Linked DNA regions of Homo sapiens: regions 2, 3 and 4 are each linked to region 1. Evidence: fine-mapped QTL for protein levels in blood plasma. Region 1 holds a variant in brackets. A gene starts in each other region. All regions are shown on their reverse strands.

Region 1 (8,103 bases):
AGATACATACATACATACATACATACATACACACACACACACATACATACTTTCCTGTTAAGTTCAACATTGTGTTGCTCTCACGGGCATTTTTTGGGGGGTGGATGGAAAAATAATTTTTCTATTTCTTTGCAGGCCTCATAATTTTTTGTTGGAAACAGCATTTAGATAATATATGATAGCAACTCTGGGTACTGAGGTTTCTTGTTATTTGCTTGTTTATTTGTTTAGTGACTGGCTGGATTATTTTAGCAAAGTCTATTTCCCATCCCCTGTGTTAGATCACTGATGTTGCTACTCTGGCAGGTGCAGCTTTGGATATACCACTGTCACCCTAGGATGACAGTGGTACTGGTAGGGCCCTCTTGCATTCTTTTCCCTGACCACACCCAGTTAAGCTCTACTTATTGCTCTGTCATTTGCAGTAGTATCCTGGGAGCATAAAATCCTCTACAAATAAATCTAATCAAATGGTGGCTCTTTCCAATGAATACTTTCTGAGGTTAGTGTTTGATATTTGTTTTAACCCCAGGAGAGCTCCTCCCAGCTGTCTTATCCTTTGGCTCTCCCCTGTAAAATAGATACAGCCTGTAGTCTAAGCTGTATCTTCATTACATCCACGAATCTCCTCCCAATCCCTTCACTACAACGTCCACTTTTTTTTTCTTCTTTAGACACAGTCTCACTCTGTTGCCCCAGCTGGAGTGCTGTGGCACAGTCTCGGCTCACTGCAACCTCCGCCTCCTGGGTTCAAGCAATTCTCTTGCCTCAGCCTCCCGAGTGGCTGGGATTACAGGCGCCTGCCACCACATCCAGCTAATTTTTTGTATTTTTAGTAGAGACAGGGTTTCTCCATGTTGGTCAGGCTGGTCTTGAACTCTTGACCTCATGATCCGCGCCCCCCCCTTGGCCCCCCAAAGTGCTGGGATTACGGGCATGAGCCACTGTGCCCGGCTGAGACCCTATCTCTACAAAAAAATTTAAAAGTTAGGCCAGGTGCAGTGGCTCACCTCTGTAATCCCAGCACTTTGGGAGGCCAAGGTGGGCAGATTACCTGAGGTCAGGAGTTTGAGACCAGCCTGGCCACCATGGTAAGACCCCAATGCTCTACTAAAAATACAGAAATTAGCAGGGCATGGTGGCATGTGCGTAGTCCCAGCTACTAGGGAGGCTGAGGCACGAGAATTGCTTGAACCTGGGAGGCAGAAGTTGCAGTGAGCTGAGATCATGCCACTGCACTCCAACCTGGGCGACAGAGCTAGACTCTGTCTCAAAAAAAAAAATAAAAAATAAAAACAAAATAAAAATTACCTGGACGTGGTGGTTCCTGCTTGTTGTCCCAGCTACTCAGGAGGCTGAGGTGGGAGGATTGCTTGAGCCACTGAGGATGCAGTGTGCCAGAAAAAAAGGAAGAAAACTTACTTATTTTTGAGATAGTCTTGCTCTGTCGCCCAGGCTGGAGTGCAGTGGTGCAATCTTGGCTTACTGCATCCTCCACCTCCTAGGTTCAAGCAATTCTCCTGCCTCAGCTACCTGAGTAGCTGGGATTACAGGTGCCTGCATCCACGCCTGGCTGATTTTTCTATTTTTTAGTAGAGACAGGGTTTTGCCATGTTGGCCAGGCTGGTCTTGAACTCCTGGCCTCAAGTGATCCACCCACCTCGGCTTCCCAAAGTGCTGGGATTACAGCCATGAGCCACCATACCTGGCCAGAAAACCTGAATAGTACTATAAGTATTAAAAGAAATTGTGTCAGAAACTCCAGACCAAATGGTCTCAGCAGCAGTTTCCACCAGTTATGGATGAAACAATTTTAATCTTACACAAACCATTTCAGAGAATATAAAAAGAAATACCCCAGTTAATTCCATGAGGGTGGCATAATGTTGATGCAAAACCTGAGAAGAATGACATGAGAAAGTATAATTCTAGGCCAGTTTCACTCACAAACATTTATTCCACAGGTATTTCTTGCATTTTTTTTTCTTTTTTTTTTTTTTTTGAGACGGAGTTTCGCTCTTGTTGCCCAGGCTGGAGTGCAATGGCGCAATTTCGGCTCACTGCAACCTCCGCCTCCTGGGTTCAAGCGATTCTCCTGCCTCAAGCTGGGGTTTACAGGCATGCACCACCACACCCAGCTAATTTTGTATTTTTAGTAGAGACAGGGTTTCTCCATGTTGGTCAGGCTGGTCTCAAACTCCCGACCTCAGGTGATCTGCCCGCCTTGGCCTCCCAAAGTGCTGGGATTAGAGGTGTGAGCCACCGTGCCCGGCCTTTCTTGCATTTTTTATGAGGTACTAGGCAGTGTTCTGGGTACTGGTGATAAAAAGCAGTGAGTAAAACAGATGAAAATCAGTGCCCTCGTGAACTTTACATTCTAGTGAAAAGAGATGAACAATAACCATAATCAATAAGTAAATTATATAGCTTACGGGCTGGGCATGGTGGCTCACGCCTGTAATCCCAGCACTTTGGGAGTCTGAGGAGGGGGCAGATCACCTGAGGTCAGGAGTTCGAGATCAGCCCGAACTCCTGTCTCTACTAAACATACAAAACCCGTCTCTACTAAAAATACAAAAATTAGCCAGGCCTGGTGGCACATGCCTGTAGTCCCAGCTACTCAAGAGGCTGAGGAAGGAGAATTGCTTTAACCCAGGAGGCAGAGGTTGCAGTGAGCTGAGACCACACCACTGCACTCCAGCCTGGGCGACAAGAGCGAAACTCCATCTCAAAACAAAAAAAAGTTATATATCTTATTTATATGTTAGAAAATTATAAGTGCTGTGGAGAAAATATGTCAGGATAAAGGGATGGGGGAGTGCTGGGGGTGGGTTGCAAATGGATGGTCGGAGTTGATAGACCTCAATAAGACTTTTTTTTTTTTTTTGGTAGAGACGAGGTCTTGCTATGTTGCCCAGGCTGGTCTCGAACTACAAAATGCTGGATTACAGGAATGAGCCACCATGCCCGGCTGAGAAAGTGTTATTTAAACAAATACTAGAGTTGGGCACAGTGGCTTCCACCTGTAGTCCCAGCTACTAGGAAGGCTGAGATGGGAGGATTGTTTGAGCTTGGGAGGTTGAGGCTATAGTGAGCTGTGATGCCACCACTGCAGTTCAGCCTGGGTGACAGAGAGAGACCCTGTCTCTTAAATACACACTAGGAGGGGGCCAAGGAGTTATCCAGGTGGCTACCTGAGGGAGAAAGCATTCCAGGCAGAACAGCTGGTACAGAGGCCATCAGGTAGAACCATGACTCGTGTGTGACAAACAACAAGGGGCCCCTTGTGGCCGTAGCAGGCAGGATAAATGAACAGGTTTTAGGAATTAAGGCTTCAGAGGAAATGGAGCAGTGATGGGCAGAGAAAGCAGATCATGTTGGGTTTTGTTATTCACTTTATTCTGAATTACATGGGAAGCCATAGGAAGGTTCTGAGCAAAGGAGTGCCAGAATATAACTTACATTTTCTTTTTTTTTTTTTTTTTTTTTGAGACAGAGTCTCGCTCTGTCACCCAGGCTGGAGTGTAGTGGTGCTATCTTGGCTCACTGCAACCCTTTCCTCCTGGGCTCAAGCGATTCTCCTGCCCCAGCCTCCCAAGTAGCTGGAATTACAGGCGCTCGCCACCACGCCTGGCTGATTTTTATATTTTTAGTAGAGACAGGGTTTCGCCATGTTGGCCAGGCTGGTCTCAAACTCCTGACCTCAGGTGATCCACCCGCCTAGGCCTCCTAAAGTGCAGGGATTACAGGCATGAGCCACTGCTCCTAGCCTTTATTGTCCTTTTAAAAAAATGAATGTCAGGCCAGGCGCAGTGGCTCATGCTTGTAATCCCAGCACCTTGGGAGGCTGAGGTGGGCGGATCACGAGGTCAGGAGTTCGAGACCAGCCTGGCCAACATGGTGAAACCCAGTCTCTACTAAAAATACAAAAAATTAGCCGGGCGTGGTGGCAGGCGCCTGTAATCTCAGCTACTCAGGAGGCTGAGGCAGGAGAATCGCTTGAACCCTGGAG[T/G]CAGAGGTTGCAGTGAGCCGAGACCGCGCCACTGCGCTCCAGCCTGGGTGACAGAGCGAGTCTCTGACTCAAAAAAAAAAAAAAAAGAAAAAGAAAAAATTAAGATCATCTTAGTGGGTATAAAGTGGTATCTAATTGTGGTTTTGATTTGTTTCCTAATGACACTGAACAGTCTTCATGTGGTTTTTAGAACTTTGTATATCTTGGAGACATGTCTAAAGTCCTTTGTCCGTTTTAAAATTAGATTGTTGTTTTGTTGTTGAGTTGTAGGAGTTCTTTGTATATTCTGGCTACTAGATTTTTATATGGCTTGCAAATATTTTCTCACTTTCTACGTTGTCTTTTCACTCTATTGATAGTGTCCTTTAAAGCAAAAGAGATTTTAATTTTGATGAAGTCTATTTTTATTTCTTTTATTGACTGTGCTTTTTGGTTATAGCTAAGAAACCTTTGCAAAATCCAAGGTCATGAAGACTTTTGCCTGTTTTCTGCTGTGAGTTTGAGTTTTGACTCTCATGTTTAAGTCTGTGATCCATTTGGGGTTAGTTTTTGTATCTAGTGTGAGGTGAGGGTCTGACCTCATACTTTTGTATGTGACTGTCCAGTTGTCTCAGCTCCATCTGTTGGAGAGATGGTTCTTTTCCCATTGAATGGTCTAGGTACCCTTGTTGAAGATCAATTGACCATAGATATGTGGATTTCTTTCTGGACTCTCAGTTCTATTCTACTGATCTATGTTTATGCCACTACCATACTCCTTTATTACTGTCTCTGCAGTAAATTCGCGGGTTTTTTTTTTTTTGAGACAGGGTCTCACTCTGTTGCCCAGGGTGGGGTGCAGTGGCATGATCACGGCTCCCTGCAGCCTTGACCTCCCAGGCTCAAGCGATCCTCCCACCTCAGCCCCCACAAGTAGCTGGGACTACAGGCGCATGCCACCACACCCAGCTAATTTTTTCTATTTTTTAGTAGAGACAGGATTTCACCATGTTGCCCAAGCTGGTCTCGAACTCCTGAGCTCCTGCCTGTCTTAGCCTCCCAAAGTACTAGGATTATAGCCATGAACCACTGAGCCGAGCCAGCACAGGAAATTAAGGCTTGACTGAGTATCTCTAAGTAGGATTTGGACAGGACAAGAGAAGAAAGAGATTTCAAAGAATAAAATTAATATGTAATCACAAGGAGAAAAAAAGCTTTGCCTTTATGAAGACTGCATTCTAGTAGGAGAAACAAACATTAACAAAATAAGTAAATGTTTCAGTGCGTTAGAGAGGCATAAGTGTGGCCAGGCGTGATAACTCACGCCTGTAATCCCAGCACTTTGGGAGGCTGAGCCAGGCGGATCACCTGAGGTCAGGAGTTTGAGACCAGCCTGGCCAGCATGGTGAAATCCGTTCTCTACTAATAATACAAAAATTAGCCAGGTGTGGTGGCATGTGCCTGTAATCCCAGCTACTCGGGAGGCTGAGGCAGGAGAATCCCTTGAACCTGGGAGGTAGAGGTTGCAGTGAGCCGAGATCATGCCATTGCATTCCAACCTGGGCAACAGAGCGAGACTCTGTCTCAGGGAAAAAAAAAAAAAAAAAAAAGAAGAAAGCATAAGTGCTATGGAAAATATAAATACCAAAAAAAAATCAAGTTGGCACAGTGGCTCATGCCTGTAACCCCAGCTACTCAGAAGGCTGAGGTGGGAGGACTGCTTGATGCCAGGAGTTCTCGAGACCAGCCTGGGCAACAGAACAAGACCCAATCTCTAAATTAAAAAGATGTAAAGATCATCATAGAGAAAGTACAGATTACCACAATGGAATGACAGTCAGCCCATCAACTTCTCTACAGCAACCAAAAGTGCTGGAAGAAAAATAGAATAATATCTTCAAAGCACTGAGAGAAAAATAACTATCACCCTTGAATTGTGTGTCCCAGGAAACACTCATTCAAGAGAGAAAAAAATGAAAGACCTCTTTAGGCAAACAACAATTGAAAAAATCACCCAACAACTTTCAGTCAAGAAACTACACAGGGCTGGAGGTGCAGAGGCTCACACTGTGTAATCCCAGGACTTTGGGAGGCTGAGGTGGGAAAATCATTTGAGGCCGGGAGTTCAACACCAGCCTTGGCAATGTAGTGTGAGACCCCTGTCTCTATAAAAAGGGGGGGAAAAAAACTACACAGGATGTAATTTCTTTCTTTCTTTCTTTCTTTTTTTTTTTTTTTTTTTGAGACGGAGTCTCGCTCTGTCGCCCAGGCTGGAGTGCAGTGGCGCAATCTCGGCTCACTGCAAGTTCCGCCTCCCGGGTTCACGCCATTCTCCTGCCTCAGCCTCCTGAGTAGCTGGGACTACAGGTGTGCGCCACCACGCCTGGCTAAGTTTTGTATTTTTAGTAGAGATGGGGTTTTCCATGATGGCCAGGCTGGTCTCAAACTCCTCACTGCAAATAATCCACCTGCCTTGGCCTTCCAAAGTGCTGGGATTACAGGTGTGAGCCACTGCGCCCGGCCCAGGAGTTTGAGACCAGCCTGGGCAACATAGTGAGACCCTCATCTCTATTAAAAAAATTCATAAATTAAAAAATAAGTCAAACCATATAGAAAGTTATGAGTTGAATAGTAAGTCCGTTATACATCTTTCAAAATATTTTGTTTCATTACACTTTTTGTTATACCTATTTGTATGACTTAACTATTTCATAACTAATTGAAAATAAAAGTCATCTTGTCCAACCTCTCCATTAGCTCCTCACAGTGGGAGATCTCTCCTTGATAACTTCCTGCTTTCACCCAATGGGAAATTAGGTCCTACAAAGGTAACCTTGGGTTATCATAATGACATTTCTCTCAGTTCCACTCCATGCTGTTCCCCTAGGCTACCAACCTGGCTCCTGCAGACCCCAATGGCAAAGCAGACCCTTACGTGGTGGTGAGCGCTGGCCGGGAGCGGCAGGACACCAAGGAACGCTACATCCCCAAGCAGCTCAACCCCATCTTTGGAGAGTGAGGCTGGGCCCTGTGGGGTGGAAACGGGGTAGCTGCAGGAGCATCCAGCCCTGTGGCCTTGTGGCAGCTGGCCTAGGAATGGCAAGGGAATGGACAGGGGATGCTGACACACCCGCCTCCTCCCCAGACCACCTCCTGGAGCATGGAAGTGACCTCAGTCCCTCTCCCTCCTTGCCAGGATCCTGGAGCTAAGCATCTCTCTCCCAGCTGAGACGGAGCTGACGGTCGCCGTATTTGATCATGACCTCGTGGGTTCTGACGACCTCATCGGGGAGACCCACATTGATCTGGAAAACCGATTCTATAGCCACCACAGAGCAAACTGTGGGCTGGCCTCCCAGTATGAAGTGTGGGTCCAGCAGGGCCCACAGGAGCCATTCTGAGTTTCTGGCCAAACACATTCAAGCTCACATTCCCTTTTGTGTTCTCCAGATCCTATGATTTCATGGAAGGGGACCCTCCCACCCACCGCCACTGCCAACCAAGACATAGCTCAGTGGTCAAGACTTGGGCTTGGGAGTCGGGATCCTGTAACGAATGTCACTTGACCGCTTTCTTTTTTTATGAAACAGTCTCGCTCTGTCTCCCAGGTTGGAGTGCAGTGGCACGATCTCGGCTGACTGCAACCTCCACCTCCTGGGTTCAAGCGATTCTCCTGCCTCAGCCTCCCCAGTAGCTGGGATTACAGGCGTGGGCCCCCATGTCCAGCTAATTTTTATATTTTTAGTAGAGACAGGGTTTCACCATGTTGTCCAGGCTGGTCTTGAACCCCTGACCTCAAGTGATCCACCCACCTCTGCCTCCCAAAGTGCTGGGATTACAGGTGTGAGCCACCATGCCAGGCCCACTTAACCTCTTCAAGTCTGTTTTCTCATCTGCAAAACAGAGGTAATAAGATCAGTATCTTCTTAATGGAAGCACCTGGACTACATTTTTTTCATTCATTGTTATCATAAATGAGGACTAACCTGTCTCCCGTTGGGAGTTTTGAACCTAGACCTCATGTCTTCATGACGTCATCACTGCCCCAGGCCCAGCTGTGTCCCTACACCAGCCCCAGCTGACGCATCTTCTTTTTCTGCCTGTAGAGATGG
Region 2 (8,103 bases), not on the chromosome of region 1:
AGGGAGCCATGGAGAACAGCTGGACATCCGTGATGGTGCAGCTGGTGGACGTTGGCGTCTGCTGCAGGCAGGGCCAGCTGTGGCCCCGGGCAGCCATGCCGAGCCTGCACAGGGTGGGGCTCGCTGAGCGCCTCAGGGAGTGCCTGTGGCCTCAGCACCTCCTACTGCCGGGCCTGACCCGGGACCCCAAGGAGAGGCAGGAACAGGAGGGGGCAGCGGATGGGGATCCCGGGGTGGGGTCCTGGTGGTGGCCGTGCCACCCCCCGGGGGCAGGGCATGGGCCCCAACATCACGGTGCCCCTGATGGTTCAGGTCGGGGATTACAACCCAAGCTAGATGCTAGGGTCCGGGATTCTAAAGGTTTCTGGGATGTCAGCATTCATTCATTCATCCATCCATTCATTCATTCATTCATCCGTTCATTCATTCATTAATTCATTCCTTCATTCATTCATTAATTCATTCCTTCATTCATTCATTAATTCATCCCTTCATTCATTCATTCATTCATGACAGGGTCTCCCTCTGGCGCCCAGGCTGGAGTGCAGTGGCATGATCCTAGCTCATTATAGCCTTGAACTCCTGGCTCAAGGGATCTTCCCTGTCTCAGCCTCCAGAGCGGTTGGGACTACAGGCACGCATCACCACTCTTGGCTAATTTTAAATTTTTTTTCTACAGATGGGGGGGGGTCTCAGTATGTTGCCCAGGCTGGTCTTGAACTTCTGGGCTCAAGTGATCCTCCCACCTCGGCCTCCCAAGTACCTGGGACTACAGATGTGTGCCATTACATCCAGCTAATTTTTTTGATTTTAAGTACAGACAGGATATTGCTATGTTGCCCAGGCTGGTCTCAAACTCCTGGGCTCAAGTGATCCTCCCACCTCAGCCTCCAGAGTAGCTGGGACTACAGGCAAGTACCAACATGCCCAGCTAATTTTTTTTTCTTTTTCGAAATTTTTTCTTTTCTTTTCTTTTCTTTTCTTTTCTTTTTTTTTTTTTTTTTTTTTTTGAGACGGGGTCTCACTCTATCACCAGGATGCAGTGCAGCGATGCAATATTGGCTCACTGCAACGTCCACCTCCTGGGTCAAGCAATTCTCCTGCCTCAGCCTCCCGAGTAGCTGGGACTACAGGCGCGTGCCATCACACCTGGCAAATTTTTGCATTTTTAGTAAAGACAGGGTTTCACCGTGTTCGCCAGGGTGGTCTCCATCTCCTGACCTTGTGATCCGCCCACCTCGGCCTCCCAAAGTGCTGGGATTACAGGCGTGAGCCACCGCGCCTGGCCATGCCCAGCTAATTTTAAAAATTGTTTTTAGAGACAGGGTCTCACTATTTTGCCCAAGCTGGACTCAAACTCCTGACCTCAAGTGATCCTCCCACATCAGCCTCCCAAAGTACTGGGATTACAGGCATGTGCCACTGTGCCCAACCCAGGAAGTAGTTTTTTTTTTTTTTTTTTGAGATGGAGTCTTGCTCTGTTGCCCAGGCTGGAGTGCAATGGTGCCATCTTGGCTCACTGCAACCTCCGCCTCCTGGGTTCAAGCTATTCTCCTGCCTCAGCCTCCGGAGTAGCTGGGATTACAGGCATGAGCCACTGCACCTGACCAATTTTTAAAATTTTTCGTAGAGACAGTGTCTCACTACGTTGCCCAAGCTGGTCTCAAACTCCTGACCTCAAGCAATCTGCCCACCTCGGCCTCCCAAAGCGCTGGGATTACAGGCATGCACCACTGTGCCTGGCCCAGAAAGTATATTTCTATTGGACGGGGCCGCCCTAGAATTCCATAGGCCTGGGGTTCAGGATGTCGGGGTCTCCAGTTTTCCTGACCCCAGGGCTCTCAGGGCCAGAGTTCTGGGCTCTCCAGGAAGTCCAGTGTCCCTGAGGCCCCCTTCCAGGCTCTCCGACCTGTACGTGGCAATGAAGGACACGGGGCTGGTGGAGTTTGGAGCAGGCGGCAGGGTCCAGGAGCAATCCACGGCGATCGGGTACCGAGAGGCTCGGCATTGCACCCGGGGCAGTGTCAGAGCTGCTGGGGGCCCTGGAGGAAGACAGAAAGAGTGAGCTTCTGGTTTACCCCCAGATTGTCATAGCCCTCCCGTGCGCTGGGCTCCTGCCACGTTGCCAGCCAGCACCAGGTACATGGTAGGTGCCTAATAAAGGCTTTCGGAATAAATAGGTACATGGACAAAAGTCATCTGTCATCTTTTATCCCCACTGCAATCCATCTAGGTGAGGACTACTAGCCCATTTTCCAGATAGGGAAGCTGAGGTTTAAGCATCTACAGAGAGGAACTCGGGTAAGAGAGAGAGATTTTACCGTGTTCTCTCTTTTGTAATTGTTTTTTTTTTTTAAAGAGGGAGTCTCCCTCTGTCGCCTAGGCTGGAGTGCAGTGGCGAGATCTCGGCTCACTGCCACCCCCGCCTCCCGGGTTCAAGCGATTCTTAGCCTCCCGAGTAGCTGGGATTACAGGCATGTACTGCCACGCTTGGCTAATTTTTGTATTTTTAGTAGAGAGGGAGTTTCACCATGTTGGCCAGGCTGGTCTCAAACTCCTGACCTCAGGTGATCCACCTGCCTTGGCCTCCCAAAGTGCTGGAATTACAGGCGTGAGCCACCAAACCCAGCCTATAAATTATTATTATTATTATTATTTTGAGACAAGGTATCCCACTCTGTCACCTAGGCTGGAATGCAGTGGCACAATCATAGCTCACTGCAGCCTCCAATTCCTGGGCTCAAATTATCCTCCCACCTCAGCCTCCCAAGTAGCTGGGACTACAGGCACGTGCCACCACATCTAGCTAATTTTTTAATTTTTTGTACAGATTGGTGGGGTCCGGTTTCACTATGTTGCCCAGGCTGGTCTCGAATTCCTGGCCTCACGATCCTCACGCCCTGGCCTCCCAAAGTGCTGGAATTACAGGCATGAGCCACCATGCCCTGCTGTAACCATTTTGTCTTCAAGGACATGGAGATGTTCTCTAGTGCAAAATGAATGAATGTCGGCCGGGCGCGGTGGCTCACATCTGTCATCCCAGCACTTTGGGAGCCCGAGGTGGGTGGATCACCTGAGGTCAGGAGTTCAAGACCACCCTGGCCAACATGGTAAAACCCTATCTCTACTAAAAATATAAAAAGTAGCCGGGCATGGTGGCGGGCACCTGTAATCCCAACTACTCGGGAGGCTGAGGGAGGAGAATCTCGCTTGAACCCAGGAGATGGAGGTTTCAGTGAGCTGAGATGGTGCCACTGTACTCCAGCCTGGGCGACAGAGTGAGACTCTGTCTCAAAAAACAAAACCAAAAAGAAACCAAAGGAATGAGTGTGACTCAAATTCGCATGTCTGTGTAGCTATGTCTGTGTAGCTCTATGGATACCTCTGAGCTGTGACTGCCAGTCCCTATCACCCACAAGGTGACATCCTTCCACCCCCAATGTGGCACTCTGCCTCTCTGTGCCTCAGTTCCTCCATCTGTACAATGGGAGGGTAACCCCATCCCACCATTGGGCACGGGAGGATGTGATTTCCCACCCCAGACATGATCCGAGGCCAGTCCTCGTGTCATGTCCGTCTGCCTGGGCCCCCCAGTCCCCCAGGGGCCCCACATACCTTTCCTTCCACTGCAGGGCGGGCAGCTGGCCCAGAGGACAAGGGCCAGGAGAAGCTGCGGGGTCATGGCTGCGGCCAGCTCTGCTCTCAGGAGTGGGTGGGAACGTCGTGGGAGACTTGAGAGGGGAGGTGAGGACTTGGGACCTGCCCAGGGGAAAGCCCAGCCCAGGGTCAAGGCCCGCCCCCTCCCCGACTTCCTTCAGGTCTGACTCACTGGTGGGGCTCGTGGGGCCGCTAGGGAGATGAATTAGGGTGTGGAGGAGCCCCAGCCCCCTGGGGAGCACAGGCCACCCCTGCTCGGAAGGCCCCGAGGGTGGGGGCGGGGGAGGAGGCTGTGAAAGGGAGAAGTGGAGACCTGCTGGCTTTTCCCAGCACAGCATGTCCTGCTGGCCTTCCTTCCGCTGCCCTGAAGCGGGGGAAACCCCAGGCAGGCAGGCAGGGGCTCAGGGACATGGAGGGAGACAGAGGCAGAGATGGGGGAGAGAGGCAGAGAGACAGAGAAGACAGAAGGAAGACACAGAGAGACAGGGAGATGACAGAGACAGAGACACAGAGAGAGACACAGATGAGAGAGGCAGAGAGACAGAGACAAGAAGAGGAGGACACAGAGATAGAGGGATACAGAGACAGGGAGATGACAGAGACAGAGACAGAGAGACACAGATGAAAGAGGCAGAGAGACAGAGACGAGAGGAGGAGGACACAGAGATAGACAGGGAGATGACAGAGAGACACAGAGACACAGATGAAAGAGGCAGAGAGAAAGAGACGAGAGGAGGAGGACACAGAGAGAGAGAGACAGAGACAGGGAGATGACAGAGACAGAGACAGAGAGAGACACAGATGAGAGAGGCAGAGAGAAAGACAAGAGGAAGAGGACAAAGAGATAGAGAGACAGGGAGACGACAGAGACAGAGAGAGATACAGATGAGAGAGACAGAGATGAGAGGAGGAGGACACAGAGATAGATAGAGACAGGGAGATGACAGACAGAGAAAGGGGCATGACAGAGACAGAAACACAGAGAGAGACACAGAGATGAGAAAGGCAGAGATGAGAGGAGGAGGACACGGAGATAGACAGGGAGATGACAGAGACAGAGACAGAGACAAAGATGAGAGAGTCAGAGAGACAGATGAGAGGAGGACACAGAGATAGAGGGATAGAGAGACAGGGAGATGACAGAGACAGAGAGAGCTACAGATGAGAGAGGCAGAGAGACAGATGAGAGGAGGACACAGAGATAGAGGGATAGAGAGACAGGGAGATGACAGAGAAAGTGACAGAGATACAGATGAGAGAGGCAGAGAGACAAATGAGAGGAGGACACAGAGATAGAGAGAGACAGAGACAGGGAGATGACAGAGACAGAGAGAGATACAGATGAGAGAGGCAGAGAGACAGAGACGAGAGGAGGAGGACACAGAGATAGAGAGACAGGGAGATGACAGAGACAGAGAAAGGGGGATGACAGAGACAGAAACACAGAGAGAGACAGAGATGAGAGGAGGAGGACACAGAGATAGATAGGGAGATGATAGAGACAGAGAGAGACAGGGGAATGAGAGAGACAGAGACAGAGATGAGAGGAGGAGGACACAGAGACAGAGAGAGACAGGGAGATGATGGAAACAGAAAGAGAAACACAGAGAGCAGACAGACAGAGGAAGAGAGACAGAGGGACAGAGATAAGAGAGGAAGACAGAGATAGGGAAATGAGAGAGACACAGAGACAGAGATAAGGGAGGAAGACAGAGAAAGAGAGACACAGATGGGAAGATGAGAGACAGAGACAGAGAGACAGAGATGAGAGAGTAGGATAGACAGAGATAGAGAGATGGTGGGGCACGGTGGCTCACGGCTGTAATCCCAGCACCTTGGGAGGCCAAGGCAGATGGATCACCTGAGGTTGGGAGTTCGAGACCAGCCTGACCAAAATGGTGAAACCCTGTCTCTACTAAAAATACAAAAATTAGCTGGGCGTGGTGGCAGGCACCTGTAATCCCAGCTACTCTGGAGGCTGAGGAAGGAGAATCACTTAAACCTGGGAGGCAGAGGTTGCAGTGAACCAAGATTACACCACTGCACTCCAGCCTGGGTGACAGAGTGAGACTCCATCTCAAAAAGAACAACAACAACAACAAAAAGACTGATGGGGCAATGACAGAGATGGAGAAAGAGAGACAAAAGAGAGACAGAAAGAAGACAGGAAGACAGAAATAGAGATACGGGGAGATGACAGACACAGAAAGAGAGACAGAGAGATAAGAGAAGACGACAGAGGGCCGGGTGTGGTGGCTCACGCCTCTAATCCCAGCACTTTGGGAGGCTGAGGCGGGCGGGTCACAAGGTCAGAAGTTCGAGACCAGCCTGGCCAATATGGTGAAACCCCGTCTCTACTAAAAATACAAGAATTAGCTGGGCGTTGTGGTGCGCACCTGTAATCCCAGCTACTTGGGACGCTGAGGTGGGAGAATCGCTTAAACCTGGGAGGCGGAGGTTGCAGTGAGAGGAGGTTGCAGTGAGCCGAGGTCACGCCACTGCACTCCAGCCTGGGAGATAGAGTGAGACTCTGTGTCAAAAAAAAAAAAAAAAAAAAAGGCTGAGCGTGGGGGCTCACACCTGTAATCCCAGCACTCTGGGAGGCCGAGGCGGGCGGATCACAAGGTCAGGAGATCAAGACCATCCTGGCTGACATGGTGAAACCCCGTCTCCACTAAAAATGCAAAAAAATTAGCCGGGCGTGGTGGCAGGCGCCTGTAGTCCCAGCTACTCAGGAGGCTGAGGCAGGAGAATGGTGTGAACCCGGGAGGCGGAGCTTGCAGTGAGCCGAGATGGCGCCACTGCACTCCAGCCCGGGCGACAGAGCCAGACTCCGTCTCAAAAAAAAAAAAAAAAGAAGACAGAGATAGAAAGAGACAGAGAGATGGGAGATGGGGACATGAGAGAGACAGAGACAGAGCAAAAGAAACACAGAGAGACAGAGATAAGAGAGGAGGAAGACACAGACAAAGACACAGGGAGACAGACAAAACAGCAAGACAGACAGATGGAGACCAAGAGATAGAGACAGAGACGTGGAGACTGGGTGCGGTGGCTCACGCCTGTAATCCCAGCACTTTGGGAGGCCAATATGGGTGGATCACCTGAGGTCAGGAGTCCGAGACCAGCCTGACTAACATGGTGAAACCCCGTCTCTACTAAAAATACAAAAATTAGCTGGGCATGGTGGCACGTGCCTGTAATCCCAGGTATTCCGGAGGCTGAGGCAGGGGAATTGCTTGAACCCGGGAGGTGGAGGTTGCAGAGAGCCGAGATCGCATCATTGCACTCTAGTCTGGGCAATAAGAGCGAAAATCTATCTCAAAAAAAAAAAAAGAGAGAGACAGAGACATGGAGAAGAGAGACAGAGAGAGACACAGGAGCGCAGGCCAGGGGAGGCAGCTGCCACCGCAGATATCCCAGCGATCAGGATGCCCAGGAACAAGGAAACCCCCAGGGGCAGGCTGGACAGGCTCGGGGATCCCCGCTCCCACTCCTGCCTCCCCTCTGTTTGCTGAAAAATGCCAAGAAACCCGTGGGGATTTCGGGGGAGTTGCCAAGGGGCAGGGAGAGGCTGGGGGTAGGGGGCTTCCACCATGGCCAGCCTTAGGATTTAGGAAAGTATCTTTCTTTCCTTTTTTTTTTTTTTTAAATCTTTTTTTAGAGGCAGGGTCTTGCCCTGTCACCCAGGCTGAAGTGCAACAGCCTCTAACTGCTGCACTCAAGCGGTCCTCCCTCCTCAGCCTCCTGAGTAGCTGTGACCACAAGTGCGCGCCACCATGCCCAGCTAATTTTTGTATTTTTGATAGAGATGGGGGTTTCCCCATGTTGCCCAGGCTGGTCTTCAACTCCTGGGCTCAAGAGATCCTCCCACATTGGTCTCCCAAAATGCTGGGATTATAGGCATGGGCCACCGCACCCGGCCAAGCCTGCCTTTCTTTAACATTTCCATACTTAGTTCAGCATGCACTTTTTTTGCACCCATTTTGCCTTTTTGAAATATTGCATTAAGATGGAGTTTATCCAAAGGCCGGGCACCATGGCTCATGCCTGTATTCCCAGCACTTTGGGAGGCCAAGGCGGATGGATCACCTGAAGTCAGGAGTTCGAGACCAGCCTGGCGAACATGGTGGAACCCTGTCTCTACTAAAAATACAAAAATGAGCCGGGTGTGGTGGCACATGCCTTGTAATCTTAGTTACTCGGGAGGCTGAGGCAGGAGAATCACCTGAACCCGGGAGGCAGAGGTTGTAGTGAGTCGAGATTACTCCACTGCACTCCAGCCTGGGTGACAGAGGGAGACTCCGCATAAAAAAAAATAAAAGAGGCCAGGTGCGGTGGCTCAAGCCTGTAATCCCAGCACTTTGGGAGGCCAAGGCGGGTGGATCATGAGGTCAGGAAATTGACCATCCTGGCTAACATGGTGAAACCCGTCTCTACTAAAAA
Region 3 (8,103 bases), not on the chromosome of region 1:
GCAATCCCCTTACCTGGCTATCCATCTTTGGAAGGACAGTAGACCCTAGGATGATGGTGGCAGAGCCGAGAATCAGGAGGGGGTTTGGGACTCTGGGATCAACCAGTGAATAGGGCTGGATGGCTCACCCAAGCATGGGACATTGAGGACAGGGCTGGACGTGGGAGCTTAGCAGTGAGTCTGGAGCTTGGATGTCCCGAAACCCCAGCTTCCCGTCACCCCCCATCATACCTCCCACCCCCTCCGGGAAGGGAAATTACATTTCCCCATTTTAGCAAGGGGTGGCGAGAGGGAAGAATGAGTGAACACAAAGCTGAAAGTACAAGCAGGACGGAAAGTGAAACCGGGCACAGCCCCCAGTATAAGACCCCCCCTACCCAGGAGATGGCTGACCAAAGAGGCTGGGCCCCGCCATGGGCCAGACGGCAGGCGACCTTGGCTGGCGTGAGTTTGAAGCCAGGGGTGGGGGGCTTGGTTGAGTTTGGGCAGAGAATGGACGAGCTTGGCTGGTGCAGATGGGGGGTCGAGAGCTGAGAGCAGCAACTTGGCCAAGACTGAGGATTCGGCTGGCTGCTGCATGGGAAGGGAGGCTGGCATGACTGGGTGGGGGCCTGGGGCAGTGGGGTGGTGGTCTGACCCAGGGCTGGGCAGAGGATGAGAAGGAGGCCTTGGCTAGTGGGAATGGGGAGGGTTGGACCAGCAATTTGACAAGGACCAGGTCTAGGCAGATAAATGAAGAGTTTGGAGTGAATAAGCAGAAGCCAAACAGCTTGGCTAAGACTGAGAATGGGGCCGGCTGGAGGAAGAGCAGAACGAGGTGCTGGCACAAGTGGAGCACTGGGACCAAGATGTCAGCAGCCTCACTGGGTCAAAGGTCTTTAGTTTGATGTTGGAAAGAGGTCCAATCTGCGGCTGGTGGCTGCAGAACTCAGGGGCTAGAACCAGAGCAGTAGGCAGTGGAGAAGGTAACATGCCACGTAGGGCAGGTAGGGACCAAAGGCTGGAGGATGGAGACAGAGCCTTCAAAGGCCAGAGCCAATGACCCAGGATCAGCTGCAGAGGGTAAGGAGGGGGTCTGGGGTCTCCAGAGGTCAGGTTGGAGATGGCACAGCTCACTTACGGTTGGGCTTGATCCACCAGGGCCTGGGGGCACCCACCCTGTCCCCAACATTGAGCTAGGAAGAACCCCACTCTGCCTTAAGTCTCCAGGATGTCAGAGGGTCCGAGTGGCCCCAAAACCAGGGAGTCTGAATGCCAGAGATCTTACGTTAGGCATCGCCCACCACATCTGCAAGCCCACGAGGGAGGTAGATGTCCCTAGAAGCTCCCCTTCACCTTTATCAGGGGACATTTCGAAGAGCAGAGCCCAGGGGTTAGAGATTGAGAGAGGACAGGGAAGAGGCAGGGAGAGAAGGGAGAGCAGGATGGACTTCGGGCCAGTTTTGGTTTGTGTTTCGAGGAGAATTGTGTAACTCTTGTGCTTGCTAGATTTCCTCTCCCTGAGGGGGAAATTGATGAATGCTGCCCTCTTCCTAGAGCGCCCATCCGCTGCCCCTCTTTCCAGGAAAACACAGGTCAGGAAGCACACTCGGAATTCAGCCATTCTGGGCTGGGCGCAGTGGCTGATGTCTGTAATCCCAGCACTTTGGGAGGCCAAGGCAGGCGGATCACCTGAGGTCAGGAGTTGGAGACCAGCCTGGCCAACACGGCAAAACCCCTCTCTACTAAATATAATAAAAATTAGCCAGGCGTGGTGGCTACTCAGGAGGCTGAGGCAGGAGAATTGCTTTAACCTGGGAGGTGAAGGTTGCAGTGAGTCGAGATCGCGCCACTGCACTGCAGCCTGGGTGACAGAGTGAGAATCTGTCTTAAAAAAAAAAAAGCTCCCATACTGTGGATTCGCCCCAGGCAGGTTACCCTGCTAGGATCCACCTGCCGTGGTGGAAACTGGACAAACCTGTCCTTTTGACTCCCTGGAATAGAGCCTCTGGCATTGCCAGCCCATCCCTGGGGACCTCATGGCCAGTTCAAGCCATCAGAGCCGCTTGGCTGAGCCCAAAGAATCCTTGCCAGAACATGGTGTGCCCACTCCTGGGGCAGATGGCTGCCTCCCTCTGCATTCTCTGGGGAAAACCCATGGGCTCTGCATTTGGAAAAACCTGGAATCCAGTCCTGGCTTCCCACCTTCTGGCTATTTGACCTTGGGCAAGTCAACCTCACTGAGCCTCACCTGCAAATTGGGGAGAACAATAGCACTGAGGCTGCCACACGTGGTTGTGCAGGTTGCTCACTGAAAAAGGCATTTGGCCAAGGGAGTTTATGGGGGTCAAAATCCAGTCTCTGTCCCGGCACAGTGGCTCATGCCTGTGATCCCAGCAATTTGGGAGGCTGAGGCGGGAAGATCTCTTGAGGCCAGGAGTTCAAGACCAGCCTGGGCAACATAGTGAGACCCTGTCTCTACAAAAAAATAGAAACAGTTAGGCACAGTGGTGTGTCCCTGTGATCCCAGCTACTTGGGAGGCTGAGGCGAGAGGATCACTTGAGCCTAGGAGTTCAAGGCTACAGTGAGCTGTGATCACACCACTACACTCCAGGCTGGGTGATAGAACAGAACTCTGTTTCAAAAAAAAAAAAAAAGGATCAGGCTTCTGGTCTTTTTGCAAAAGTGGGCACACCATGCGGAGATGCCATATGGGGGCCGTGCTGGCTGCATCGTGGGGTTTTGTTTTGTTTTGTTTTGTTTTGTTTTTTTGAGACAGAGTCTGGCTCTGTCGCCCAGGCTGGAGCACAGTGGTGTTAGCTCACTGCAGCCTCTGCCTCCCAGGTTCAAGCGATTCTCCTGCCTCAACCTCCTGAGTAGCTGGGATTACAGGCATGCACCACCACGCCCAACTAATTTTTGTATTTTTAGTAGAGACAGGGTTTCGCCATGTTGGCCAGGCTGGTCTTGAACTCCTGGCCTCAGGTGATCCGCCCGCCTCGGTCTCCTAAATTGTTGGGATTACAGGTGTGAGTCACCGCACCCAGCCTCCATTGTGGTTTTGAGGAGGCAGAGGAATGATGCTGGTCAAAGTGCCTGCACCGTGCTCACAGCTAGCACAGGCTCAGAAAAGGCATGTTCCCTTCCTTCTCAAGCTCTCTCCCTGTCTTGCCACCCTCTTCCCATCTCTCCAGGGCTCAGCCTGTTGCTGCTTCCCTTGCTCCTGGTTCAAGCTGGTGTCTGGGGATTCCCAAGGCCCCCAGGGAGGCCCCAGCTGAGCCTGCAGGAGCTGCGGAGGGAGTTCACAGTCAGCCTGCATCTCGCCAGGAAGCTGCTCTCCGAGGTTCGGGGCCAGGCCCACCGCTTTGTAAGTCCCCCTAATGCAGCTGGCGCTGGAGATGGGCAGACCCCCAATCCCTTCTGGCCCCCACTAACAGACCTTGCCCCCCAGGCGGAATCTCACCTGCCAGGAGTGAACCTGTACCTCCTGCCCCTGGGAGAGCAGCTCCCTGATGTTTCCCTGACCTTCCAGGCCTGGCGCCGCCTCTCTGTGAGTGAGGGCTGGTGGAGTGGGGCGGGAAGCTTGTGATAGGCTGGGGCCAGGGTGCAAGATGAGGCTGGAGATTGAGCTGGAGATGCATTGGGGATAGAACCTGGATAAGGCTGAATATGTCATTGGACATAGAGATGAAAGACAGGCATGGTGACTTACACCTATAAACCCAGCACTTTGGGAGGCCCAGGTGGAAGGACTGCTTGAGGCCAGGAGTTCAAGACCAGTCTGGGCAACATAGTGAAACTTTGTCTCTACAAAAAAAAATTTAAGAGTTAGCCAGGCATGGTGGTGTACACCTTTGGTCCCAGCTACTCAGGAGGCTGACATGGGAGGATTGCTTGAGCTCAGGAGTTGGAGGCTGCAGTGAGTTATGATCCTGGACTCCAGGATGGAGAACAGAGGGAAACCCTGTCTCAGAAAAATAAATAAACTGCCAGGCGTGGTGGCTCATGCCTGTAATCCCAGCACGTTGGGAGGCTGAGGAGCACGGATCACCTGAGGTCAAGAGTTCAAGACCAGCCTGGCCAACATGGCGAAACCCCATCTCTACTAAAAAATACAAAAATTAGCTGAGCGCAGTGGCTCACGACTGTAATCCCAGCACTGTGGGAGGCTGATGTGGGTGGATCACCTGAGGTCAGGAGTTCGAGACCAGCCTGACCAACATGAAGAAACCCCACCTCTACTAAAAATACCAAATTAGCCGGGTATGGTGCTGTGCGCCTGTAATCCCAGCTACTCGGGAGGCTGAGGCAGGAGAATTACTTGAACCCAGGAGGTGGAGGTTGCAGTGAGATGAGATCGCGCCACTGCACTCCAGCCTGGGCAACAGAGCGAGACTCCATCTCAAAACAAACCAACAATAAAGATGAAGCTGGAATAAGGAAGTGGGGTTGGGAAGAGGTAAGAGTGGAGCTAGGCATGGAACGCGGCAGGCATGGGACTGGAATGAGGCTGGAGACAGATCACAGCAGCATGGAGGGTGGGTGGAGGTGGCACTGGGGGTGAGAATGCGGATAGTTAGAGATGAGAAGGTGATGATGAGGGTGAACGTTAAGCATGGGATGGAGAAGGGATGGGGATTGCTGGTGGGGAAGGGAATGGAATAGGGTTAGGAATGAGGTTGGAGATGGGATGGAAAGATGGAAAGAGTGAGTCTGGGCACATGGAGGAAGGATGGAGTTGGGGTTAGGAATGGGAATGAGGCTGAAGATGGGATGGAAACACATGGGCAGGAGGTATGATGGGATGGTGGAGGAGGGAAGGGAACAGGGCTGTGGATGGAGAGTGCTTCAGGGACTGAGAGGGGGTGGGTTAGAGAAGATCATTGGCATAGGAGTGAAAGGGAGGCTGGAAAAGGAGATGGGACAAATGTCCCAGACAGTGGAGATGGAAGGAATGGGGACACAGCTGGGCTGAGGTGGGGGAAGAGCTACAGGGATGGACTGGAGGCTGGAGCGTGGAATGGGAAGGAGACCCGGATAGGGAGGGGGTGGGTGTGATATGGCCATCCTTGGCCTGTGGACCTTTCCTGACCATCTCCCTCCCCTTCAGGACCCGGAGCGTCTCTGCTTCATCTCCACCACGCTTCAGCCCTTCCATGCCCTGCTGGGAGGGCTGGGGACCCAGGGCCGCTGGACCAACATGGAGAGGATGCAGCTGTGGGCCATGAGGCTGGACCTCCGCGATCTGCAGCGGCACCTCCGCTTCCAGGTAGAGCCCGGCCACCCTCCACCACCCCAGACCACGTGGGAAAGAAGACTCGCTGGCTCATTCAGTGATCCCATGCTCTGAGTGTGTGTGAGTGTGAGAGTGTGAGTGTGACTGAGTGTCCATGAGTGTGTGGGTTCATGAGTGTGAGAGTGACTGTGTGGGTCCGTAAGTGTGGGAGAGTGAGTGTGACTGTGTGGGTCCATGAGTGTGACAGTGTGACTGTGAGAGTGTGTGAGTGTGGGTCTGTGAGTGTGAGAGTGTGTGGGAGTGACTGTGAGTGCATGTGGGTCTGTATGAGTGTGAGCATGACTGTGTGTGAGGGTGTGGGTCCGTGAGTGTGAGAGTGAGTGTGTGGGTCTGTGTGAGTGTACCTGACTGTGAGAGTGTGTGGGTGTGACTGTGAGTGTGTGTGTGGGGGGGCTGTATGAGTGTGAGCATGACTGTGTGTATGTGCGTCCGTGTGTGAGTGTGACTGTGAGTGTGTGGGTCTGAGTGTGAAAGTGTGTGGCTGTGAGTGTGTGAGTGTGTGGGTGTGACTGTGAGTGTGTGTGGGTCTGTATGAGTGTGAGCGTGACCGTGTGTGTGTAGGTCCATGAGTGTGAGACTGTGAGTGTATGGGACTGTGAGTGTAAGAGTGTGGGAGTGTGTGGGTGGGTGTGTGAATGTGAGTGTTGTGAGTGTGAAAGTGAGGTGTGTGGGTGAGAGTTTGGGTATAGGTATGTCAGTGTGTGAGGATGAGTGTGAGTGTGAGAGTATGTGGGTACGTGAACGATTTTTTTTTTTTTCTGAGACTAAGTCTCACTCTGTCGCCCAGGCTGGAGTGCAGCGGTGCGATCTCAGCTCACTGTAACATCTGCCTCCCAGGTTCAAGCAATTCTCCTGCCTCAGCCTCCTGAGTAGCTAGGACTACAGGCGTGCACCATCATGCCTGGCTAATTTTTTTGTATTTTTAGTTTCACCATGTTGGCCAGGCTGGTCTCAGACTCCTGACCTCGCGCTCTGCCCGCCTCGGCTTCCCAAAGTGCTGGGATTACAGGCGTGAGCCACTGTGCCCAGCCATGAATGTGTTTTGTGTGAATGTGACTGTATGGGAATGAGTGTGGGTGCGTTGTGAGAATGAGTATGTGTGTGAGTGTGTGCGTGTGTGCAGGCGCACACACAGCCACACCAGGCCCTGGTGCTGCCCCTCAATCTTCACATTCTCCTGGGGCTCTATCTTCAACAGGAGGCCATTGGGCTGTGAGGTCACTCGGGGTGTGTCCTGAGTGCCCAGCACAGCGTCTGCCTCCTGTTTCCTTTCTCCCTCTGATTCTCTGATGTCACCCAGATCCTCCAGAACCTTTCAAAGGGAAATCAGAATTTTACACTTAATGAAATGAGAATAGAAAATGCAAGCAGCAGGGCTGGGCGTGGTGGCTCACGCCTGGAATCCCAGCACTTTAGGAGGCCAAAGCGGGTGGATCATTTGAGGTCAGGAGTTCGAGACCAGCCTGGCCAACATGGTAAAACCCCATCTCTACTAAAAATACAAAAATTAGTCGGGCGTGGTGGTGCGCGTCTGTAGTCCCAGCTACTCAGGAGGCTGAGGTAGGAGAATTGCTTGAACTGGGGAGACAGAGGTTGCAGTGAGCCGTGATCACCCCACTGCACTCCAGCCTGGGCGACAGAGCGGGGCTCCCAAGAAAGAGAGAGAGAGAGGAATGGCAAGCAGCAGGGAATCTGAGCTATGTCACCCTCTGCCTGTTGCTGACCCGACCCAAAAGCAACTTTCACAGCAGAGAGAAACTTCCTGAACCCCACGCCTCGGGGCAGTCCTTGGGGTGATCTAGCTCTGTGAGCATCCTCTTGCTCCTTGACTTCCATTTTCTCGAACTGAAAGATCAGGTGAGACGCGTTAGCAGGTGACATCATGGAAGATCAAGCAGGGAATGTCCGGGGAAATCATGACCTTGTGGTCACTGATGTCATTGGGAACCGCTGGGCATGAATAGGGAATGAGGATTCCTCTCAGGTTCTCGGCCTGGCCCCTCCCTGACCCATGGCCTCTCCTCACAGGTGCTGGCTGCAGGATTCAACCTCCCGGAGGAGGAGGAGGAGGAAGAGGAGGAGGAGGAGGAGGAGAGGAAGGGGCTGCTCCCAGGGGCACTGGGCAGCGCCTTACAGGGCCCGGCCCAGGTGTCCTGGCCCCAGCTCCTCTCCACCTACCGCCTGCTGCACTCCTTGGAGCTCGTCTTATCTCGGGCCGTGCGGGAGTTGCTGCTGCTGTCCAAGGCTGGGCACTCAGTCTGGCCCTTGGGGTTCCCAACATTGAGCCCCCAGCCCTGATCGGTGGCTTCTTAGCCCCCTGCCCCCCACCCTTTAGAACTTTAGGACTGGAGTCTTGGCATCAGGGCAGCCTTCGCATCATCAGCCTTGGACAAGGGAGGGCTCTTCCAGCCCCCTGCCCCAGGCTCTACCCAGTAACTGAAAGCCCCTCTGGTCCTCGCCAGCTATTTATTTCTTGGATATTTATTTATTGTTTAGGGAGATGATGGTTTATTTATTGTCTTGGGGCCCGATGGTCCTCCTCGGGCCAAGCCCCCATGCTGGGTGCCCAATAAAGCACTCTCATCCACCCCTGGCCTCCGCTTCTCTTCGGGTAAGGGCTGTCTGACACCCAGAGGGCAGGGCAGCCTGGAACGGGGTCAGCAACCTCTAGCCATCCTGAACCCCTCTCTGCTCCTACATTTTTGGGGTCTCTGGCCCACCTTCCCCTACTATGTCCTGCTCCGGCAGGCAGTTGCCATAGTAACCAGCAGCATCCTGAGGCCGAGCTACCGTGTTGGAAGCTCAAGGCAGCTCATCTCTGATTCTG
Region 4 (8,103 bases), not on the chromosome of region 1:
AATAGGAAAAACTTTAAAATCATCCAGCCAAATTCTCGCTTTGCAGAGGGTTTTTTTGTTTTTGTTTTTTTCAGAATTAAGATTCCAAATGACTGCAAACCCAATGCAAATTGACTTAAGCCCAGAAGGAAATGTATTGCCTCATTGATGTGCCTTGTTTCAGGGATTCCACTCATGTCATAGACCTAGACTTGCTTTAGTTCCTCACTTGCCTTCTGCTTGATTGGTTCTCTTGTGAGGTAGGCTTTCCTCGTTGGTGGCAAGACTGCTGACATTAGCTTCCAGCTCACTTCCTCACAGCTCAGACCACAGGAAAATAGAGAGGGTCTCTATCTGTTAAAAGTCACAATAAACATCTCAAGATTGTGTATCCTTGACTTCATTTGAGTCAATTGCCTATCCTTGAGCCAATTGTGCCCATGAATGAAATCAACGCCACCTGAACTGCATTGACTGAGAATGAGGGAAGTCCGGTTCTCCAGAGGCAAACCTCCAAATGCAGAGAATGAAGGTGGCAAAAACATGAAATATCCAGCACTGCTTTGGACTCTGTCAATAATATGCTTTAATAAAAACTGAGCATCAAATATTAGGATGTTTGTGAATATTCTGAAACTTGATCATGGAATCTAACTTAGGAAGAGACAACCAAGTTTAGTCTCTTTTTCCGGTGTTTGACCCCTCCAGATACTAGATTACTTTTAACATTTACACTCTTAAAACAAAGGAATATGTGCATTTTAAAAAATGAATTTTATTTTAAAGCAGTTTCAGATTTGCAGAAAAATCAAAGATAATACAACAGAGTTCTTATGTACCATACACCTGTTTCCCCTATTATTAACATCTTATATTAGTGTGATATATTTATTAAAATTAATGAACCGGCCCGGCGCTGTGGCTCATGCCTGTAATCCTAGCACTTTGAGAGGCCAAGGTGGGTGGATTGCTTGAGGTCAGGAGTTCAAGACCAGCCTGGCCAATGTGGTGAAACCCTGTCTCTACTTAAAATACAAACAATTCGTCGGGTGTGGTGGCAGGTGCCTGTAATCCCAGCTACTTGGGAGGCTGAGGCAGAAGAATCGCTTGAACCCAGGAGGCAGAAGTTGCAGTGAGCCGAGATCATGCCACTGCACTCCAGCCTGGGCAACAGAGCAAGACTCTGTCTCAAAAAATAATAATAACAATCAAATCAAATCATATAAATGAATCAGGATTGGTACATTATTATTATCTAAAATCCATACTTTATTTATATTTTCTTACTTTTTAGCTAATGGCCTTTACCTGTGCCAAGATCCCACCTGGGATACTACATTAAGTTTATTATTTATTTATTTATTTAATTTATCTTTCAAAAATAGAGACAATGTCTCACTATGTTGGCCAGGCTGGTCTTGAACTCCTGAGCTCAAGTGATCCTCCCACCTCAGCCTCCCAAAGTGCTGGGATTACAGGTGTGAACCACCTCACTTTGCCTGTTTTCTTCATGTCAGTGTCATGGGTTTTGAGGAGGAAGTCCATAGAGATAAAGTGACCCTTATATTACATCATGTCAAGGGTACATATTATCAACTCAACTGATTGTTGATGTTGATCTTGATCAACAGGCGCCTGAGGTAGTATTTGTCAGTTTTCTCTACTGTAAAGCTACTCCTGCCCCGCCACTCCCCATTGTATTTTTTTGAAAGAAGTCAGTAGGTCAAACCCACACTGAAAGAGTGGGGAGTTAGGCTTTATCTCCTTGAGTGGGGAGTATCTACATAAATTATTTATAATGCTTCTGGGGAGAAGATTTGTCTATTCTCCCCTACTTATTTATGGAGTCATAATTTACTTCTGTCAGTATGGACTCAGATATTTATTTTATACTTTGGATTATAATCCAGTATTCTTCTATTTATTTTGTTGCTCAGGTTGTTCCAGCTTTGAGGTGGAGCCAAAGCTTTTTGGAAGCTCTTTTGATAATCTCCTTTGCTCTTTAAAATAATCTCATTATTGTGGGATTCTTTTTTAATTTTCCTTTTTTTTTTTTTTTTTTAAGCACTTTCTTGCTGTTACTTACTGACATTGCAGGATGTTCCAGGTTCAGTCCGTATGTTTTTCACCTCAGTACTAGAGTCAGCCATTTCTCCAAGAAGCCCTGGTTCTTTTTATGGGAGGATGGAATTAGAAATTAAGATGTGGGTGCTAGGTATGCTCAATATAGCCATTTTATTTTATTTTATTATTTACTTATTTATTTATTTTGAGATGATCTCCCTCTGTTGCCCAGGCTGGAGTGCAGTGGTGCGATCTCAGCTTACTGCAACCTCCGCCTCCCGGGTTCAAGAGATCCTCCAGCCTCAGTTTCCCGAGTGGCTGGGATTACAGGCTCACACCACCACACCCAGCTAATTTTTGTATTTTTAGTAGAGACAGGGTTTTGCCATGTTGGCCAGGCTGGTCTCAAACTCCTGGCCCCAAGTGATCTGCCTACCTCGGCCTCCCAAAGTACTGGGATTACAGGCATGAGCCACCATACCCGGCCTCAATATATGCATTTTTAATAGTCAAGTTGTAAAAGGTTTATAACTAAAAAAATAGTGAATTTCTTTCCCACTTTTTTGCATTAAACTCTTTTGAGCTTGTTCTTCTGGTTTTTACCTTCATATTACTCACAGCGTGTTTATGCTGGTATTGTCTGATTGACCAATTTGAGACACTATTTGTTGACTCCCTGTAAAGGTGAATAGACTTTGGCTTTCTTACACCCCCACCCCGCTTCCTCTCTACCAATTTTTCCAGTGTAGTCAAATCAAAATATGTGTTAAGTTGGGGCACAGTGGCTCATTTCTGTAATCCCAGCACTTTGGGAGGCTGAGGCAGGCAGACCACTTGAGGCCAGGAGTTCAAGACCAGCCTGGCCAACATGGTGAAATCCCATCTCTACTAAAAATACAAAAATTAGCCGGGCATTGTGGTGCATGACTGTAATCTCAGCTACTTGGGAGGCTGAGGCATGAATCACTTGCACCCTGGAGGCAGAGATTTATCCGAAGTATTCCATGCAGTGAGCCAAGATCGCACCACTGCACTCCAGCTTGGGTGACAGAGTGAGACCCTGTGTCAAAAAAATAAATAAATAAAAATAAAAATGGTGTATTAAGCCAGTAGCCAGATTTTACATTATTACCAGCATGTAACTATTAATATCTTTCACACTTAGCAAATGCACCATAATTACATTTCTTTTCTCGTACAAAATTTTATCTTTCCTGGTTGTAATAATTATCTCATTTTTTGTTTGTTTGTTTGTTTGTTTGTTATTTTGAGACGGAGTCTCGCTCTGTCACCCCAGCTGGAGTGCAGTGGCATGATCTTGACTCACTGCAACCACCACCTCCCTGGTTCAAGGGATTCTCCCACCTCAGCCTCCCAAGTAACTGGGATTACAGGCATGTGCCACTGCACTCAGCAACTTTTTGTATTTTTGGTAGAGATGGGGTTTCTCCATGTTGGCCAGGCTGGTCTGGAACTCCTGACCTCAAGTGATCCAACTGCCTCTGCCTCCCAAAGTGCTGGGATTACAGGCGTGAGCCACTGCACCCAGCCTTCATTGTGTTTTTTTCTTAATTTCCCAAGTATCCATCAAAAATTCATCCCATGGCTGTGGGCAGTGGCTCATGCCTATAATCCCAGCACTTTGGGAGGCTGAGATGGGAGGATCACTTGAGACCAGGAGTTTGAGACCAGCCTGGGCAACATGGCAAGACCCTGCCTCTACAAAAATTTAAACAAATTAGCTGGGTGTGGAGGCACACCTGTGGTTCCAGCTACTTGGGAGACTGGGGCAACAGGATTGCTTGAGCCTGGAGGTTGAGGCTTTACTAAGCCATGTTCATACCAGTGCACTCCGGTCTGGGCAACAGAGCAAGACCCTGTCTCAAAAAAAAAAAAAAAAAAATTCATCCCAAGTATTCCATCATATCTGCCAAACACCTATCAAAGTTATTTTCAAATTACCTAAGTACATGAGCTTATTCGTGACACTCACTACCACCACCCCAAGGCTTATTCCTCTGCTCTTCTGCCCCAGCCTGAGGTGGTTATTAAAGTAATTATTCTCCAAAGATGCTTCCCCTACCACTCCAATGAACCACACTTCCTCGCATTCACATCCTTGTATTGCTCCCTCCACTTGAATTCTCTGGGATGGCCTTATAATTTGCCTTTTGACCAATAAAATACTGTAAAAATGATACTGAATGTTACCTAAGGCTAGGTCATAAGAACCTTTGTGGATTATTCCTGAGCATGTTGGAATGCTAATTTTTGAGAAAGCCAGATCCTATGTAAAAAATCCAACTACTCTGAGACCACCATACTGTAAGGAAGCCCAAGCTTCCATGTAGAAAGGTCATGTGGAGAGAGACAGTTGTCAGTCCAGCCCCTATCTCTTCTAGTCATTCTATTAATTTGCTAGACATACAAGTCCAGCTAGAAGTGTCATTTTGGATGATCAGTCATGTGAGTGAGAAAGTTATCTTGGACAAATAGTCCAATCTAGTCTTGAGATAGCCACTGTCACTGGGTGAGAGCTACCCAGCTGAACACTGTCATCCCAGGGAATCATGAAAAGTACATTGACATTGTTCAGGCACTAGGTTTTGGGGTGGTTTGTGATGCAGTGAAACAGTTCCCCTCTAGGTCTGTTCTGCAGTTTTCTTTGTGAAATTTTTCTTCCCTGGAGTTAGATGTCATGTTTTCTGGACCCCATGACTTTCTGTTTCCTGGTTATTTCTCCCGTTTTGCTACAGATTTCTCTTCCATAACTTCTAGGAAAGGAAGTATAGTAAGTAAATTTTGAATCTATGTCCAAAAAGGCCTTTATTATGATCTTACATTTGAGAAATAGATTGTCTGCGAGTAGGATTCTAGGTTGAAATTAAATTTCTCCTCTGGATTTTTTTTTTTTTTTTTGGACACAGGTTCTCTGTCTGTTTTCCAGGCTGGAGTGCAGTGGCACAATCTCAGCTCACTACAACCTTCACCTCCCGGGCTCAAGCAATCCTCCCACCTCAGCCTCTGGAGTAGCTAGGACCACAGGTGCGCATCACCACACTCGGCCAATTTTTTGTATTTTTGGCAGATATAGATTTTCTTTTCCTCTTTTTTTTTTTTTTTTTGATGGAGTCTCCTTCTGTCACCCAGGCTGGAGTGCAGTAGCATGATCTCAGCTCACTGCAACATCTGCCTCCTGGGTTCAAGTGATTCTCCTGCCTCAGCCTCCCAAGTAGCTAGGATTACAGGCATGCACCACCACACCCAGCTAATTTTTGTATTTTTAGTAGCGACCAGTTTTGCCATGTTGCTGGGACTTGTCTTGAACTCCTGACCTCAAATGATCTGCCCGTCTTGGCCTCCCAAAGTGCTGGGATTACAGGCGTGAGCCGCCACGCCCGGCTGATACAGGTTTTTACCATGTTGCCCAGGCTATTCTGGAACTCCTGGACTCAAGTGATCCACCCACTTTGGCCTCTTAAAATGCTGGGATTACAGATGTGAGCCACCACACTCGGCCTTCCCTCTGAATTTTGAAGGCATTCGTGCATTATTTTCTAGCTTTGTTGTTTGGAACAACAATGCCATTCTATTTCCAAATCCATTCAGTGCAATATGTTGTTCTTTCTCTCTGGAGTCTTTTCGTATCTTTTCTTTATGTCTGATGTTCTCATATTACATGATAATGTCTTGCTTTTTGGGGATATTTTTATTCATTGAGTTTAGCATTTGATTGACCCGCTCAATACTGAGAGTCATCTCCTTTAGTTACGAGAGTCTTTCCTTTATTATTTCTTTAGTAATTTCCTCTCCTCTATTTTCTTTTTTAATGTTCTGAAACAATCCTAGTCCTTTGACTTTGTAGATGGTTATAATTTCTAACAAATTTTCTTAACTTTATTTTTCAAAACTTCCATAAAATTCGGGACATTTTTATAATGTCTATGTTCTTTTTCATGAATGTAAAATCTTTCTTTCTGAGAAAATATTAGCTTTTTAAAAAGTTTTTGAAGTTCTCTTTAGCTCTCCCTGTTATTTTTGTCTCTTTTTTATGTTAAATGCTTTCCTCAAATGTCTGATGATCCCTGGTTATCTGTTCATATCTGAAAGGGACACTAAAGACTCATTAACAGTTCTGCATGCATGGCTGAGGCTCATGCACTGATGAACTTATTGAAGGAGGGTTGAGTGGTTTTGTTGGGGAACACTCAAAACTATAAATATCTGAAAATGTTTTATTGGGACCACTTAGTTTATCCAGAGATTAAATCCTCCAGTTTCCTGGGATAGAATGGGGAAAGGATCCCTTGGTTCTGTGGGCATTCAGTGGGAAGATTCACTCTGAATCCCGTTATTTTCATCCCTGCTCATGTTAGTCTGGCTTCTCTGGGTCTAGAACCTCACCTGATATTTAGATTTTTCACTGATACCTTCAGTAGAAGCAATGTTGAATGTTTGAGGTTTGCTGGCTGTTTACAATCAATTAAGGATTTTTAAAAATCTAGAACATTTGTGAATTCTTATATTTTCTTCCTGGTACTAAGTAGGAGCTAGCCACAGGTAGGCCTCATCATATGGATACATTACCCAAACGGTCACAGGTCAAAGGACAATGTAGTGATTAACCATAAGCTTTGGAATCAGGAAGTTCTGGGCTTCAGTGTCTTCCTAAAACTTAAAAAAAAATTTAATTTTTTTATTAAACTTTTTTTTAAATAAAAAATTGAGATGGGGTTTCGCCATGTTGATCAGGCTGGTCTCAAACTCCTGGCCTCAAGCGATCCTCCCATCTCGGCCTCCCTAAGTGCTAGGATTACAGGTGTGAGCCACTGTGCCTGTCCTCACTTTTCTTTCTCCATTATTAGGGCAAGGAGGCCAGGGGACAGGGTGAGGGAGAACCTAGAATGGGAATGGAGGCAACTTTCAGTCTAACTATGCTTTGGCCCCATGAGGAATCTACATGTAAACACTTGCCAGTATGGAGAGTCAATTGCACTTTGTGACAGGCTGTACAGCAGTTGGGACAACTGTGGCACATGCACAGGTTATACAGGCATATTTGCACCAGCACATGCATGGATGCTTGTGCACATATAGGAAACCCACTATACACATGGACAAAGAAGCACAAGTATGTCCACGCCATCCCTCCACACACACACTAGTCACCAGGAGAAAAGGGCTCAGCACATTTCATCATGCATCGCCCATTGGGGGAAGCCATGTAGGACAGGAGAAAGGGAAGATTATGAGGCAAAAAGAGAAATGAAACTAAAGAGTCCCACCCTGTCAGCATTAACTGGGATATAAGAGGTTGGGCTTTGGATAGATAGACAGACTCCTGGGTCCGGTCAACCGTCAAAATGTCCAAAGAACCTCTCATTCTCTGGCTGATGATTGAGTTTTGGTGGCTTTACCTGAGTAAGTGTTCTGAAACCTTCTATGTAGAAGTTTCCAGAGGACTTGCTATTGTGTGATGGATTTCCATGCACTGGTTTGGGCCTCAGTGAAGCAGAAGCTCACTTCATTTCTGCATCCCTCCCCTCTCCCTACCAGGCTTCCTTCTGTGGAGGGTCTCTGTCCTGCCTTGTTACACAGAGGTTTATCCAGAGACTGGTCTGGGGGTTTTAGGCTGGGGTAATTTGGGCTTATATTGGAAACAGCAACTGAAGAAGAGACACAGAAATAAGTGGTCAGATAAATTGGGGAAAAGAGATTTCCTCTATGGGTGTTATTCATATAATCAATAAGCCAGGAGAATTTGTTCTGGTGAGAATTGTGATAATTCTTATCATTCCCTCTGTTTTTAGAAGTGTTTGCTTTTTGTTTTGTTTTGCTGGGGTGAGGCTTTATGTAAGGTTTCTTTTCTGCACGTTGTTTTTGGGTTTTGGATGATGCAAGTGTACACACTCAGTTTTGGCCAGTGAAGTTCTTTGCATCCTGGTGGTATAGAGCCAAGTGTTCTGGCCTGAGCTGCAGCTGCGTCTCGGGCACTAACTGTTGACACTGGGAATATGTCTAAATTGCTCTGGCTCTCCCATATTTGAAATGAGAGACCTG

Alleles and levels. Alleles are on the strand shown, and positions count from the first base shown. The strength of an association depends on the size of the effect and on how common the allele is.
For the plasma level of the protein whose gene starts at base 3,710 in region 2, T is the low allele of the variant in region 1 and G is the other (strong association).
For the plasma level of the protein whose gene starts at base 391 in region 3, allele T in region 1 goes with a lower level than allele G (strong association).
With allele G in place of T in region 1, the plasma level of the protein whose gene starts at base 7,379 in region 4 is higher (strong association).

The links. PIP is the chance, under the fine-mapping model, that this variant and not a neighbour inherited with it causes the effect. The UK Biobank Pharma Proteomics Project read protein levels with antibody pairs (Olink). The fine-mapping took linkage between variants from a reference panel, not from the people measured, so its PIPs are less certain.
Region 2: EBI3 starts here. The variant in region 1 is fine-mapped to the plasma level of the EBI3 protein (UK Biobank, PIP above 0.99).
Region 3: IL27 starts here. The variant in region 1 is fine-mapped to the plasma level of the IL27 protein (UK Biobank, PIP above 0.99).
Region 4: TIMD4 starts here. The variant in region 1 is fine-mapped to the plasma level of the TIMD4 protein (UK Biobank, PIP above 0.99).

The regions. Positions count from the first base shown.
Region 1 is chr20:35,564,003-35,572,105 of GRCh38, reverse strand. It overlaps the pseudogene FER1L4. Among named protein-coding and RNA genes, the nearest start is that of ERGIC3, 26 kb to the right of the region's middle. The variant T/G (reference allele first, on the strand shown) is at 4,013.
Region 2 is chr19:4,225,130-4,233,232 of GRCh38, reverse strand. EBI3 (Epstein-Barr virus induced 3) reads right to left here and starts at 3,710. Exons shown (of 5, transcript NM_005755.3): 1 at 3,616-3,710; 2 at 1,910-2,042; 3 at 1-104. The coding sequence starts at 3,682. RefSeq lists enhancers at 1,936-2,437, 3,401-3,490 and a silencer at 6,525-6,725.
Region 3 is chr16:28,499,122-28,507,224 of GRCh38, reverse strand. IL27 (interleukin 27) reads left to right here and starts at 391. Exons shown (of 5, transcript NM_145659.3): 1 at 391-444; 2 at 3,175-3,347; 3 at 3,432-3,530; 4 at 5,091-5,249; 5 at 7,305-7,863. The coding sequence starts at 414. The coding sequence ends at 7,574. RefSeq lists enhancers at 6,961-7,461, 7,462-7,962.
Region 4 is chr5:156,962,502-156,970,604 of GRCh38, reverse strand. It overlaps TIMD4 (T cell immunoglobulin and mucin domain containing 4), which reads left to right and starts at 7,379. Exons shown (of 9, transcript NM_138379.3): 1 at 7,379-7,464. The coding sequence starts at 7,407.